Regions from separate parts of the Homo sapiens genome. Here region 1 is linked to region 2. The links come from fine-mapping of genetic effects on gene expression. Tissue or cell type: whole blood. Region 2 holds a variant in brackets; the other region holds the start of a gene. All regions are shown on one strand. Distances are between the middles of the regions.

Region 1 (8,000 bases), 47 kb before region 2:
TTATTTTCAAGGGTTATCTTAATATCTCAAACAAAAAGGCCAAATTCCTTTCCAAATTTCTTGGCCTTAATGTTTTTTTTCCCTTATGTTGTAGGTCTTCAACAAATAAAGGAGAAACCAAGTGGATGGTCTCAAATCTGTAAAGATTCATCTTATAAAAATGGATCCAGGGACACTGGAAGCATGGATCCTGATGTACAGCTCTGTCACTGTATTGAAAGAACAGTAATTGAAATAATAAATATGAGTGTTAGTGGAATTTAAAACAAAATTTAAAACAACAAAAAGTTGTTTGCTGCATATACCCAACATGAATCTGCATATTAGTAACAACTCTAAACTGAATGGGAACAGTAAAGTATTGTCTTGGAATCACTAAAACAATTCAATTCAACATGAGTATAGTTTAGAACTTTATGAGAATTATGCTTGCTTGTTTCTGATTGGCACATCTTTGGATCTACTTTGCTGATATGTTTCTATTGTAGCAGCTGAGCTTTTTTTTTTTCCACTGGGAACACATGTAAGAAACTCATTATTGGAAAGGGAATTTGGCCTTGTATTTAGCTTTTGAAGTGAAGACTGCCATGCCTTTAATTTCTTATAAAAATGAGTCTGTGGGTAGCCCTAGTGTTTATTTTAACTGTGAGCTTGTAACAGAATGTGACAAAGATGCAAAGATGGGAGAGGAAAAAAGGGTAAAGGGAAAGGAGAATTAAGGAAATAATAGGAGTTAAAAACACAAGTAGAAATCTCAAAGATTTGCAGTGCAAGTAATAGTAATGCAAGTTGGAATTCTAGTTCTCAAGAAAGAGTATTGAGAAGACTTTTAAAAAGGCAAGTAGCTTTTGTAAATGATTTCTGTGGAAATACAGATGAGGATTTAAAGATTTCACATATTTGCTTCAATTTTTATTAATATATGAAGCCATATGTTTAAAGAGATACTTGAATAATTTGGAATTTTAAGATACTGGTGTAAAAGTGTTTACAGAAACATCTTTGTTCAAAGAAGAACCTGAGAGATCTCATTTAGTTTTATGTTTTAAATTTATTTTTATAATGCTTTATTAACTTACCTAATGCTCAGAGGGGGGAAATATGTATCAAATTAAATGAAGGTAGAGCAATAAAACCCACTGGATTAAAGAGCTCTTGGTTTGTCATCAGGATTATAATTCATATCTTACTTTGAGAAGATCTTTGAGTAAGAAAATGCAGTGTTTGAACCTGAGGAAAAGTTAAAGTGTAGAAAATATTGTCTTGCCGAAGGATTTTGCAGTCCTCTGTCAGTAACTTCCATTGATTAGGCAGACATATTCAGGTAAACCCTAATCATTAAAAAAAAATTATCAATGTAGAAAGTAATTCCCTTTTTTCTCTCTGAGATATACCTCAATCACACACTTCCCCACCCCCACTTGAAACAGACCTCTTCACTTGTGTTTTTTTTTTTTTTTTCCTGAGGTGGAGTCTTCCCCTGTTGCCCAGGCTGGAGTGCAGTGGGATGATCTTGGCTCACTGCAACTTCTGCCACCTGGGTTCAAGGGATTCTCGTGCCTCAACCTCCTGAGTAGCTGGGACTGCAGGCACGCGCCACCTGTATTTTTGTATTTTTAGTAAAGACGGGGGTTTGCCATGTTGCCCAGACTGGTTTTGAACTCCTGGCCTCAGGTGATCTGCCCACCTTGGCCTCCCAAAGTGCTGGGATTACAGGTGTGAGCCACCGCACCTGGCCAGACCGCTTCACTTGTAAAAGAAATTAGGCTAATAAGAAGGTGTAGTTTTTGAGAAATGAAATTTAACTTTAGCCTTTTCACTAGTAAATAGTCACATCTCATTTTCTTCCTTTGTAAAATGGGGTTACTACTGGCCCTACCTCATATTCTATGAGAATGAGTTTGTAGCTGTTTCAAATCATGAAGTGCATAGTATCACATGTGATAGAATATTTATAACTTTTTATTAGATGCTTAATGTTCAATTAAGTAATTTTGATGTGAAAAATAAAAGTAATAAAAGTATCTTAAAAATAGCATAAGAATTTTCATATTTTTAAACAAGGCAGTTTTGTAGTCCCTTAAGATTAAATACAACTGCTCCTTTTTTTTTTAAACTGAGGCCTTGCGATATTTTGTGTGAATAGATATGCCCTAGGAGTTCAGAAAAAGTTAAAAGTATGTTTTCTAATTAAATGCAGTGCACATTCCTGGATCAATATTCAAAGACTGGTCATAACCTGCTGTGTTAAAATAATCACATATGCTCTTTTTCATCAGATTTGTTGATGATGTAAATAAAATGTGTAAATATATTAGTAAATGTTAATATTCATGTATTTTAAGTTAAGGTTATAAAATTTGTCACAATGTGTTTTTTTATTCAAGTGAAAACAGATGTGTGCAGCTATTTTGAATATTGGTTTATAAACATTCATATTCTTTATCAAACGAACCTGTAGTTTTTGTGTTTCATTCCACTAGAGTTAACCTGAAGGGAACGGTTCAAGGGACTGTATTCGAGGTCTGTATGGCTCCAGGGCCTACGTGTATCCCTTTCTGTTATGCCACATACATTAAATGGCAATGCAAGGTGAGAGCCAGTTGAAACTCTTAGTAATTTAGGAGAGGAAAATGAGAGTAGTTATACTAGAGCAGTTACTCAAAAGAGTTGATTTTTTTTTTTTTTGAGACGGAGTCTCGCTCTGTCTCCCAGGCTGGAGTGCAGTGGCGCCATCTCGGCTCACTGCAAGCTCCGCCTCCTGGGTTCACGCCATTCTCCTGCCTCAGTCTCCCGAGTAGCTGGGACTACAGGCGCCCGCCACCACGCCCGGCTAATTTTTTGTATTTTTAGTAGAGACGGGGTTTCACCGTGTTAGCCAGGATGGTCTTGGTCTCCTGACCTGGTGATCCGCCTGCCTCGGCCTCCCAAAGTGCTGGGATTACAGGCGTGAGCCACTGCGCCCGGCCAAGAGTTGATGTTTTAAAAATTATAAAAGAGAAATGACAATTTGAAGGTATTTTTAAGGATTTATTTTTAAACATTATCCTTCCTTTCATTGTCTTAACAGTAAATTACTTCATCTTTGCTCATTCATATGTATTTTCACATTACTGAATCCCTAACACCCAGTTTGGGGTTTGCTTTGCCTTTTTTCACTTAACCTTATATGGGATTTTTTCTTGCAAGTTTAATTTTTATAAGTTTATTGGCTTCATAATGTATTGAATTCATCTGTCATAACCACCTCCATATTACTAGACTGGGAAGTTCATAATTTTTTTCAGTATTACCAATAGATATTATTGTCAATTGCGGTATCACATTTTCTTTCGTTTAGATTACGTCTTTAGGATAAATATCTGGAGCTCAGATTACTAGGTCAAAGGGTAGAGTTTATTTTTATGACTACAAGTTTTGTCATTTTTGGTAAGATATATCACAATTGACAATGAGGCAAACAAATCAACTAGCCCCCTCCTGCTCTTTCTTCCCAGCAAACTCCTTCCCCAAACTAGTTACTTGAATTTGAGAAACAGTATGAGGTTTTGCCTTTTGGAGACATTATTATTTGAGCCAAGTTTAGGTTATACAGATTTTTTAAAAAAATAACATGATTTGGCAAGATCATGATGAACCTCCTTTTCTTTGAGTAAATTAAAGTACTACTGGCAAATAATAAACTGGTCTTAGGAGGGATGGAAGGCGGATAAGCCTTAATGGAAGTAGAAGTGATCTGATACTGGAGACCCTGAGAGCTTGTCTCTGGCTTATTTTAGCATCCGGGAAAGCCTTGAATATTATGAAAGATAGATTGTAGCCCGATGTCACAGAGCCTTCTTACTTAAGTTTGGCTCAGCAGTCTGGCAATTCCCGCCTGAGTCTTCGCTATCCTGGCTACTGCAAAGCTGGGTAATTTAAATTGAGTGGCACTGATAAATGCTCAAAGAACTTGGCAAAGCTTAAAGATACTTCCTTTCCGCTGGTCTACGGACGTGAAGAATGAGACTTCCAGTTTCCAAGGAATTTGCTGCATAGACTCTATCGCCGGTTTCAAAAGTCAAACTGAGACGACTTTCTACTTTAAACAAACACTAGGGATTTGCTGGAGTGGCGACAACCTTCCGCCGCGTACCTTGAGCCCTTGTTTTTTTTTTTTTTTTTCGGAGACTTCCATTGGATGCCGAAGTTCTCGCCCCCTCACCTCGCACCGGGACTGGTTGATTCCTGGCCTTGGCGGGTGATTGGTCGAGCTCGCTGGGCTATTGGGCGCTGGGAGTCGAGGGGGCGGGAGGCGGGAATTCGTCTCGGGTTGTGTGGTTGAGGGGTCTGGTGGGTCGAGGAAAGGTAACGGCGGCCCCAGTCCTGCACACAAGGCCGGGGAAGTAGCAGCACCCCCAGGAAGAGGGAGGAGGAAGGGCTCGTGCCCTTTCTTCTCTTCCAGGGCTCCGCTTTATTTGCTCTCAGAAGTCGGTTTCCTTTCCTTTTCTTCAGTGAATCGGAGCTCAGAGCGTTGCTTCGGTTTCCCTCCAGACAGGCAAGTCGGAGGGAAGTCCACGGAAAGGGCTTGAGTTCTTCTGCACAGCCTGCGGGCCCATGGGTGGTGACTGGATCACCAGGGTCTCGGGGATCTCAACTGGCTGGGGGAGGAGGGAGATACGGGGCAGAAAACCTGAGGAGGGAGCCTATCCTTACCTCCTTTGAGCGCAGGCCTGTTCTTAGCCCGGGCGCTGCGTTAATTCTTGGCGGGAGGCAGAGGGGTGTGTTTATCCTTTATGCAATGTTTGGGGGAAGCTACCCCATTTTGACACTATTGTTGCCACAGCCGGGGTACAGGACGGGCTGATTTCTAGATTATATCTGAGTAACTAGGCCAGCGTTGAGTTGTTGATTCATATTAAGAGGTTAGATTCCACCATACCTCATTCTCAGAGCTTTACAGATAGAATCGCAAAATGTTAGAGCTGGAAAATACCCTAGAATAATGGTTCTTCTTTTGGAGCACACAAGCAGTGGTGAATGTTATTATTGGCTTCATAATCTATTGAATTGCTATTTTAACCATCTCTTCGTCCCCAGGTTGAATTTACAATTTTTTCCCACGACTGCAAATAATTCCTTATTTAATAACAGTGCATGTAATTTCCCCCGCTATTTTGATTTCCTTGAGATATATTTACGGGAAGAGAAATCTATGGACTTTTTCTTCAGAAAAATGCAATCATGTACAGAAACTTATGCTTGCAATTTCAAGAGGTCATTGTCTCTGAATTACATCCGTGGATCCTAGGTTAAGAAAAGTGGTTTAGAAGAGGTGAGGATTAAAGTGATCCTCATCTGTATCAGATCCTGGGTTAGGTACATTCTGCCCTGGCTAATTTTCATAAAAACCCTGTCAGGTAAGTAGTAGTATTTCAATTCCATATATGGAGAAACAAGCTCTGAGAAGTTAAGTGATTCACACAGTGGAATTCAAACTTAGGATTGCCTTACTCCAAAGCCCATCCTGTTTCTATAATACTCTACTGATCTTCAAATAACATTTTTGAGTGCCTACTATGTGCCAAGGCATTCTCTTTCTTATAACAGCCTTTAAATTAAATTAGGGGTTATCACAGGTAAGGATCTTAGACTAGAGAAGTAAAAAGATATGTCAAAGATAACATACCTGAGTCAAAGATAACATACCAGGCAGTATACCAAAACCTGGTATAGAACCTATGCTTCCTGACTTCTGGTCAACAGCTTTTTTCTTCTAACTGGAGGACTGCAGAAAGGGGTAACACAAAGGGGAAGAACTGGAGAAAGAGTGATGCTACGGAGTTGTAGAGAGAGAGGCCTCAGGAACTTATTTGTTTCTGTAGGTTGATTACATCTGATCTAACTGTTACAAGAGCTCATGTTTAATCTGGTATGTACTTTATCATATTTGCACATTATTTCACTTAATCATTACCACAATCCTATGGGGTACATGCAGTCACTGTGGCTTAGAGAAGGTAACTAACTTTCCCGAAGTCACACAACTAATACCTGGCAGAGTGAAGGATACAAATCTAGATTTGTTAGACTCTAAGACATGCTCTTGACCGCTGTGATTTATAAGACTAGGAAATTATTTTGTTTCCATTTGTTTTGTTTATACTTTTATTAATTCCAGTTTCTGTTTCCAGATTTCTCCCTTAGTTTTGGTTCTCTGGTTTTCTTTGTAAGGCGTGTCTCAATATTTGACATTTTCATTTCTGTTGTAGTTAGGAATCTGAAATAAACAGGAAAGCACTATGTCTTCAATGTGGTCTGAATATACAATTGGTGGGGTGAAGATTTACTTTCCTTATAAAGCTTACCCGTCACAGCTTGCTATGATGAATTCTGTAAGTATTTTTCAGCAGTTAAGTTTTTATTAAGATATAGATACTTATGACCCATAAAGTACATTGAGTATTTGACTGCATTCATATTCTCAGTAAATGGAGAATATTTTCTGGGTTCACTTGGAAGAATATCTAACCTCTGGGAAACTACTGATTGCAGCTAAACTGTATATATCTGTGGTTAAGGCAAAGAAGAACATTCTGAAAAATGTTCTCAGCTCATTTGGAATTTCTATACTTTTAATGAAAAACTGCTATACTTTTAAGTAAAAACAGAGTATTTACTATCTTTTACACAGAATACTATTTTTCTCACCATTGTTTTGTTTGGATCATGTAGAAAATTAATATACAAATTTGAGTAAACCAGCTTTCCAGTTTTGTTACAGCTATTTTGCCATATGTACTTCATATCTTATTTACTGGTAACAAGATTATTAGTATCCTGAATTTGTTCTTTTCCTTTCCTAGCCATGTTTTTATACTTTTATTACATATATATGTATCCATAAACAATATAGAATATTATTTTACATATTTGAAACTGTGCATTGATGTGATACGGTACCTTACTTTTTATGCAGAACTTGAGTTTTTTAACTTAGCATTATTTTTAATGTATAGCCCTGTTGATTCTTAATCCATTTTAATTGTTGTATAAATTCCATTGGATGAATATACCAGAATTTATCTGTCCATTTTCTTATTGGTAGACATTTAGGTTGTTTACATTCTTTTGCAGTTACAAACAATGCTGCTGTGAACTTCCTTTTTTCTTTTTGTTTTTGAGACAGCGTCTCACTCTGTCGCCCAGATTGGAGTGCAGTGGCGCGATCTTGGCTCACTGCAACCCCTGCCTCCCAGGCTGAAGCTATTCTCCTGCCTCAGCCTCCCCAGTAGCTGGGATTACAGGGATGCGCCACCACGCCCAGCTAATTTTTGGATTTTTAGTAGAGACGGGTTTTCACCGTGTTGGCCAGGCTGGTCTCGAACTCCTGACCTCAAATGATCCACCTGCCTTGGCCTCCCAAAGTGATGGGATTACAAGCGTGGCTGCTGCTGTGAACTTTCTTATGCATGTTTCCTTGTGTTCATGTGGGAAAGGTTTTGGGTGTACACATAGAACTGGACTTGCTGGAGCTGGGCATCTTCACTTTATAAGAAATTGTTTATTTCTCTACCAAGTAGTTGTAACAATTTGTACTCTCACTAGCAGTATCCTTCATTAAGTTTTCATCAAATATATTGATAGGTAGTAATGTATTCTGGTTTTACAGAAATCATTGATGCTTGCATAATTCTGGCACAGATTCCTCTTTTCATTTCTTCTCTTGTGCTTGATATTTTAGTAAGATAATCTTAGGGAGAGGTGTAAAGGAATACAGTTTGGATTTAACTAAATATGAGTTCCTTCTGCTATTGTTGTGTTCCCTGGAGTGCAATCTCACTTTTCCTTGCTGTTCTATTTAAACTTCAGATGGAGAGAGACCTTTATAAAGTTAATATGTTTATTATTTTCATTGGTTTCTGTGTTCATAGATTCTCAGAGGATTAAACAGCAAGCAACATTGTTTGTTGGAGAGTCCCACAGGAAGTGGAAAAAGCTTAGCCTTACTTTGTTCTGCT
Region 2 (8,360 bases):
CGTGTTTATTTACATAGTGTGCAACAAAATAACCAATGGAAACCTCTAGAGAGTATTTAAACTCCAGAAAATTTTGTAACCAGTGCTCTTGAGCCTCTTGCTCAAGCCCCCTCCCACTCTGTGGAGTGTACTTTCTTTCTTTCTTTCTTTTTTTTTTTTTAAGACAGAGTCTCGCTTCGTTGCCCAGGCTGGAGTGCAATAGCGGGATCTCAGCCCACTGCAACCTCCGCTTCCCTGGCTCAAGTGATTCTCCTGCCCCAGCCTCCCGAGTAGTTGGGATTACAGGTGCATGCCACCACGCCTGGCTAATTTTTGTATTTTTAGTAGAGACAGGGTTTCACCATGTTGGCTAGGCTGATTTTGAACTCCTGACCTCAAGTGATCCACTCCCCTCGGTCTCCCAAAGTGTTGGGATTACAGGCGTGAGCCACTGTGCCTGGCCCTTTTTACACTTTTGTAACCAGGGTTGGCAACTTAAATGAGCACCAGATAGGTAGCATGAATGAAAGAAGGGGTCTAAGTATAAGTGCATGTGATTACATTCTTTAAGTGGCAGGGACTGTGATACCTTGAGAGTATATGTCTCATCCAAATGTGGCAATCTAGTCAATGTTAGTGGATTGCTGTCCTGTAAGAATACAGGCCTAATGTGGCCAGTCAACCAGTTTTTCTAGAAGAAACCAGCACTATGGATTTTCATCTCATAATTTTTAAGTAGTTCAAATTTATAAAACTCTGTGTAGCCATTCAAAACATGATTGTGAAGCAGGTATGATTTGTGGACCTCCAGTTTGCAACTTCAGCTACTAAGTAAGTTTATTTTAGTGGTGTTTTAGGTGGGAAGGAGGGCAAATGTGTGTACCTAATCTGCCATATTAGACTGGAAGTCTCGTGGTTTCAGTTCTTATATACTGATCTTTAATTCAACTGTAAATTATTTTGATGTAAGGTGGGAGATAGGATCTAATTTTTTTCCCCAAATAGTCATTCATCTAAATATTAGTTGAATAATTTCCCCCACAGATTTGAAATGCCACCTGATTTAAACAGGGTGGTTTGCTTTTTTTTTTTTTAATTTTTAATTTTGGTGGGTACATAGTAGGTGTATATATTTATGAAGTACATGAGACATTTTGATACAGGCATGCAATGTGTAATAATCATATTAGGGTAAATGAGGTATCCATCACCTGAAGCATTTATCCTTTGTGTTACAAATAATCCAATTATACTCTTAGTTATTTTGAAATGTACAATTACATTATTTTTTACTATATTCACCCTGTTGTGCTAGCAAATACTAAGTCTTATTTATTCTTTCTAACTACTTTTTTGTTCCCATTAACAACTCCACTCTCTCCCCTCCCTAGACTACCTTGCCCAGCCTCTGAAAACCACCCTTCTACTCTCTCTCTCCATGAGTTCACCTGTTTTAATTTTTAGCTCTCACAAATGAGTGAGAACATGCAAAGTTTGTCTTTCTGTGCCTGGCTTATTTTACTTAACATAATGACCTCCAGTTCCATTTATGTTGTTGAAAATGACAGGATCTCATTCTTTTTATGACTAAATAGTACTTCATTGTGTATGTGCCACATTCTCTTCATTCATTCATCTGTTGATGGACACTTAGGTTGCTTCCAAATCTTGGCTATTGTGAATAATGCTGCAATAAACATGAGAGTGCAGATATCTCCTCGATATACTGATTTTCTTTCTTTTGGATATACACCTAGCAGTGGGATTGCTGGATCATATGGTAATTCAATTTTTAGTTTTTTGAGGAATTTCCAAATTGTTCTCGATAGTGGTTGTACTAATCTACATTCCCACCAACGGTGTATGAGGGTTCCCTTTTCTCCACATCCTCGCCAGCATTTGTTATTGCTTGTGTTTTGGATAAAAGCCTTTTTTTTTTTTTTTTGAGACAAATTCTCACTCTGTTGCCCAGGCTGGAGTGCAGTGGCATGATCTCGGCTCGCTGCAACTTCTGCCTCCCGGGTTCAAGTGATTCTCCTGCCTCAGCCTCCTGAGTAGCTGGGATTACAGGCGTGCACCACCACACCTGGCTGATTTTTGTATTTTTGGTAGAGATTGGGTTTCACCAAGTTGGCCAGGCTGGTCTCGAACTACTGACCTCAGGTGATCTGCCCCCCTCGGCCTCCCAAAGTGCTGGGATTACAAGTGTGAGCCACCGTGCCCAGCCAATAAAAGCCATTTTAATTGGGATGAAATTATATCTCATTGTAGTTTGGATTTGCATTTCTCTGATGATCAGTGATGTTGAGCACCTTTTCATATGTCTGTTTGCCATTTGTATATCTTTTGAGAAATGTCTATTCAAATTTTTGGCCCATTTTTAAATCAGATTTTTAAGGGAGTGATCTGCTTTTTAAGAAATAGAAACCCGCTAAAAGAAAGATCATGCAGGAGATATAATTCCCCTCATTGGAAATGAAAAGTTTTTAGGCAGCTTCTCTGTTCTCTTTGGGGCCTCTGGTGTGACATCTGCATTTCTCAGCAAAGTTTTCTCATTATTTTTTGTAGATTGGTTTTTCTAGATACTTACACTCTTTCATATGACCTTACCATGACATCTCAAAGTGGAAGCCTAAAATCTACCAAATGATGTGGCCTATTTTCTGTAATTAATCAACTCAGTCTAAATGCCCCAAATACAAGTTCTTGGGAAAGTGAAACTAATTGATCTTGCTATGCCTGAGAGTGTCTTTGGATATGTGTTATTAATGTGGATATTAGGTTCAGCCTTTCAGCAGGGGATATAGATGATTTCAGAGTAAGTAGGTGGACACATGTCCATAGAGGTGCCTAATACAGCATCTTTATCATATATTTGAAATTCTTACATCTATAGAAATATATACCCTACTTGCCCATCTTTCCCCCCCCTCCCCCCTTTTTAGAGATGAGGTCTTGCCATGTTGCCCAGGCTGGTCTCGAACTCCCAAGCACAAGTGATATGCCTGCCTTGGCCTCCCAAAGTGCTGGGATTACAGGTGTGAGAGATCACACCTGTCCCCATCTTATTTTTCCAAAAAGTTTTGGTTATTCTCACTTATTTATTTTCAAGATTAAATTTAGATTACCCAAAAAAAAATCTTGCTGGGATTTTGATTGGAATTCAGACAAAAATTAGAACAAAAAAGATTAAGAAAAGTAGTTTACTAGTCTACAAAAATTGTGAACCCAGTTTTCATGAGCTGCAACCTGCAGAACCCATTTTTACCTATGAGCACACAATTTTTACAGTGTACTTTTGCTTTTTCCTTTCTAACTTGAATTTACGAAGAGAATTTCTCACACATACAATGCACCTGCAATAACCATTGGTTTTCTAGAATCTCTGATAATACTTTAAATGTATTCTGTCCACTAGCCACATGTATTTATGTTTTTTGATTAATTAAAATTAAAATTCAGTTAGTTGTACTAATTACATTTCAAGTGCCCATGCGGCTAATGCCAAATATATTGAATAGTGCAGATATCAAATACGCTGTCATCACAGAAAATCCTGTTGGGTAGTGCTGCTTTAGAGACTTGTATGTAATAATAACCATTTAATTTTTAAAGCCCATAGAAGCACAAATCTCTATGTCATATGTTTTGTTTATAGCATTTTGGTTAATATGTGGAAAATGACATGATAGGATAGCATTGTTTTCTCATTTTAAAAGGTTCATTGAAGAAAGTTTGAAAAATACCATAAAGGAGAAAGTAAAAATTACCTGCAATCTCAAGAGATAGGGTTTTTTTTAAAAGCCTTTTTGAAATACAATCTATAACCAAGTGTACATATCATAAATTACAATTGGATGAATTTTCACCGACTAAATAATACATATATGTCTTTTTACCACAGTTTCTCTATTCCCAGGTTCTTTTTGATTCATGTCTTGATTGTTTGGATTTAATAATCATGTAGTTTTATTGAAGATGGGCACAAGAGTATATTTCTTATATCAGGAGGCATATGAAGCCAGTTAGTCTCAATACCATTGATGCTGAATTTCACCACTTGGTTAGAGTGTCACTGCCAGGTCTCTTCATTGTAAAGGTACATTTTCCTTTTGTAATTAATGAATAATCTGTGGGGTGATATTTTGAGACTTTGTCAATATTCTGTTCCCTAATAACTTTTCACTGAAAGATTTCAGCATCCATTTATGTAACTTGCCTGAATCAGTTAGTACAGGAAAGTTGCAAAATGGTGATTTTTAAAATTCTATCATTTTATTTACAATTCTTAGCTGGCATTCTTATTTAAAGAAGATATTTTCCGCCTACCCGCCCACTTCCCCATTTTGCTCGTTTGAGTCTTCTTTTTCCCCTTTTTATTTTTTATAAACACCCTGGGTTTTTCTCATGAAGTTGATCGGTGTGACTCATCACTGCTTTGAGACTCATTGCTATAATCACATCTATGTAAAGTTCTATTATACCAGGATAATTTTTGCTT[T/C]ATAGCAGGTCAGTCATCTTTATGATATGCTTGTTCTTAAACTGATAATTCTTATTGATTTACTCTATTGAAACACAGACTTTTCAGAAACTGGAGCAACTGTGTTAAGGAATTCCCATTTACACTAGGCAAGAAAGTAAACAGTAAGTGGAGAGTAGGGTAACAAACACTTATGGTATCAAAAAACAACCGTGAAAAGGATCTGTCTTAATGTGCTAGCCCACTGCAGTTTAACATATTGCTTACAACCTTCACAATAGAATTTGAGTGACTTCAGTTACACATTCCAGGAGACTGGCAGTCTGTTACAATCAGAGTCTGAACTTTAGAGCAGGCTAATTTACAGCGATGGGATGAAGAAAGTTGTGGATTTGTATTACACACTCTCACCTGACACTGTATCTGATCCCCTACCTGCTGATTGACATCTTGAATGAGCTCTTTGAAGCAAGTTCCAGCTTAATTAAAACGTTTGCTTGGTTAGCAGTGATCTATGAAAGCCTGTGATAAATATTGAATCAGGTTCACCTGCTGGTTGCTGTGAGTGGATAAACAGCTGCTTTGTGCAGTCTAATCATGAAACGGTGGCAGTAGGGTACTACTACTGTTTGAATTTTTAAAAAAAGAATAGTTGAAAAGGTATAGTTATGTTACTTTTGCTATCTTACTAGAGTGTGTGCTAATGTGAGATTTTGCACAACGGGCATTCAGTACCTGTTTAGATGGCTTGGACAACAGCAAATGGTTGATAAAGATTAAAAAACCCTTTTTTATGTCTCAAAGTTTGTAGTATAATTCTATGTTCATTGGCCTTTTACCACTAGCTCTTCATATGCATGACTTTTTGAAATAAAGGGCAGTGTTTTGCTTTTTTGCTTAAGTGGTAGATGAAAACAATCCTGTTAAAGCTTCACTTTAAAGATTTAAGGTTATGAATTTCAACTTCTCCACAAATTTATTGTGTATTTTGTGGGAATTTGAATTCTTCTGAATTTCCTTTTTTATCTGTAAAATGAAGTTAGAAATATACATTAGTGAACTGAGTATTTTAGCCTTATGTTAATATTAGGTAATTAACAAACATTAAAATAGAAATGAGTTCAGAAGCAGTGGAGGAAACTTTATGAAATTCTCTTGGCTGTTGTTTATTCCTTTACAGAATAACTATGTCTGGCTAATTTGGTTATAAAGAAAATGTTGTTTCCATTTGATTTTCGTTAAAAAACCAGATATAAATTCTGGAATAAAGCCCTAACCCAAATCAGTCACAATCTGCTTTGAGCACTTGATTAAAGTTAGGGGTTCACTTTCTAAAAATGCACACAAAATTGTGTCTGTAGTTTCTGGGTGATCTGTAATAGCCCATGGACCCTAATTTGAGAACCCATTTCCTAATAAATTAGGTTGAAAACTTTTGAGGAGGAGGTGTTAAGATGAAAGCTATTCTGCTGGGTATGAAACAACTGAGGAGAAACCAGAACAGAGTATATTTACTGTGGGTTTTTTTTTTTTTTTCCAGCACTTCTAGCATTTTTCAGGTATGTTTTTCATGACAATTGTTAGCTTTTAAGATTATCTTCCATAGTCTTGATTCCTCACTCTCTACCTGAAGTTTTATATTTTTATTTCTATCATCAACTTATTTAGAATTTTATGGGGAAAATACAATTTTGTTTAAGCCATACTCAGCCTGTTCAACTGCTTGTTCATGTTTATCGATGTCGATGCATACAACTGTCATTCATATATTTTCATTATAATATTATTCCATTGATTGGAAAGAGCCCACAATTTACTCATCCATTCCTTCTGTTGATACATGTAGCTTGTTTTTCTCACTATTAAAACAATGCTGCAATTAATATTCCTCTTGTATCTGTCTTAATGTGCAAGAGTTTTTCTAGCATGTATACCTAACAGTGTCATGCTGGGTCAAAGGGTATATGTATCTTTGATTTCACTAGATCACCAATTTGCTCTCAAGTAGTTGTGCCAATTTATACTTCGATCAGCAGTGAATAAGAGTTTCTTCATATCCTCTCCAGTACCCAATCTGGTGGATAGGAAATGGAATCTAATTATGGTTTTAATTTGCATTTTCCTAATTACTAGTGAAGCTGTACATTAGATGGCACATCTTTTCAGATATTTATTAGCCTTTCAGCTTTTCTCTTCTGTGATTTGCCTGTTCTTGGTTTTCTGTAGGGTTTGTCTTTTAAAAATAGATTTATTGGAATTCTTTATATGTTGTAGATACTGATCCTCACTTGACTGTAAGCACTGCAAGTATCTTCTGTCAGCCTGTGCCCCCTTTTTACCTATTTTTCTTTCCTTCTTTAAGGAATATGTATCTTTAAATAGAAGTTTAACATGTTAATGAAGCTGTGTTTTCACTCATTTGTGTTTTTGGTTTATTGTTTTAGGAAATCCTTCTCTACATTTCGATCATAAAAGATATCTTCCTATGGAAGAAGAGACCATATAGCCTTTGAAGCTTGAAATGTTTACTGTCTGGCTCTTTTGCTGACTCTTGCTCTAAAGAGTCTATTAATTGAAAGTTTGTGTTTTTTATTTTTCCCTTGGGGGACATAATATGGATCTTGTTATAACATATTTGATTTAAATGTCAACTAATAAGTTAAAACAATTTTTATGAAGATCATACTTAGGAATATTTTGTAATTGCATTCATAAAATAATATAACTAACTTTAAACAATTCCTTGGTTTATGAGTGAAAATGGTGTGATAAACTCCAAGAACTACACTTTGTAGAACAATTTAAGAATGAAGCTCTCTTTGTCAGTAAGATGAGGTGATCCTTGTCATTGTCTTCTCCGTGGCTTGATATATAGGGATTCCAATGTCTCTTGAGTCAATGAATGAATGAAATGGGATATTAGATGAAAAATGTTTAGCACAAGGACAGGCTTAAAAATGGCAGTATTATTACTAATGAAAATATTGGGATATATGTTTGTCACGACTAAAATACTAGCATAAGATGGTTTTTCTTTTTGGCCTTGAAAAATAGTAATTGTCCTGTACTTTTTCCTTTAAAAGCTAATCTGGATTTTGAAGTATCTTTTTGATATGTGCAGCACTTCAAATTAGGACATCATTTAAGCATCTGTCAGATTTAATTGTAATGCATGGGTACAGTATTTGGTTCAGGGACATTTAGTCATAATTCATCAGTTTAAAAAAAGCTAAGTTACAGTTATGTGCAAAACACCACTCTCGATGAATGAGCTATATAAAGAAATGTAAGACATAGTTTCTGTCTTCAAGGAATTTGCAGTGTGGTTGGAAAGACAATACATGCACATGTGGAAAGTTATGGAAGAACACAAGTTTTTGTATTTTTTTTTTTTACTGTTTCATTGACCTAGTTTTCCTTTTATTTCACTCAAACAGGTTTCTCTTCATTCTCTTTTTCTCTCTACTTCTTTATATACTTAGTTTTCGTACTCCTGCCTGCTTTTGAAATTCAATTTGTAGTCTCCTTTGAGAATCTCTCCTGATTTACAGTTAGCAAAGGAACTTCTTCTTTGGCAATGAAATTAGTTCCTATTTCTTTATCATTTTCCATTTCTAAAAATATTTAATTGCTATGCTCATTTTTCAGGTATTTAGGCATAGTATTTTTTTGTGTGAGTGGTAGGGAAAGTTTGGAGAAAGTTATAAATCTTTAGAAGTTGACATTGTGGTATGTTACCGTTTGAACTTATAATTATAGCTTGTGAAAGGAACAGTGGCAAGGACTCAGCAATTCATCTTTCTTTCAAGATCAAATCTTCGAACTCTTCATCTTTGAAAGAATGTAGACATGTCTCTATATAATACAACAAGAGAGGGAATATAATTTATTAAACACAAGA

What was found. PIP is the estimated chance that this variant, and not a neighbour inherited with it, causes the effect.
Region 1: BRIP1 starts here. The variant in region 2 is fine-mapped to the expression of BRIP1 in whole blood (TOPMed, PIP above 0.99).

What each region holds. Positions count from the first base shown.
Region 1 is chr17:61,859,821-61,867,820 of GRCh38, reverse strand. BRIP1 (BRCA1 interacting DNA helicase 1) reads left to right here and starts at 4,293. Exons shown (of 20, transcript NM_032043.3): 1 at 4,293-4,537; 2 at 6,252-6,374; 3 at 7,914-8,000. The coding sequence starts at 6,282. INTS2 (integrator complex subunit 2) reads left to right here. Exons shown (of 25, transcript NM_001351695.2): 25 at 95-2,454. The coding sequence ends at 264.
Region 2 is chr17:61,812,750-61,821,109 of GRCh38, reverse strand. The region is part of intron 6 of BRIP1 (BRCA1 interacting DNA helicase 1); the gene reads left to right. Among named protein-coding and RNA genes, the nearest start is that of BRIP1, 47 kb to the left of the region's middle. RefSeq lists an enhancer at 4,330-5,352. The variant T/C (reference allele first, on the strand shown) is at 4,481.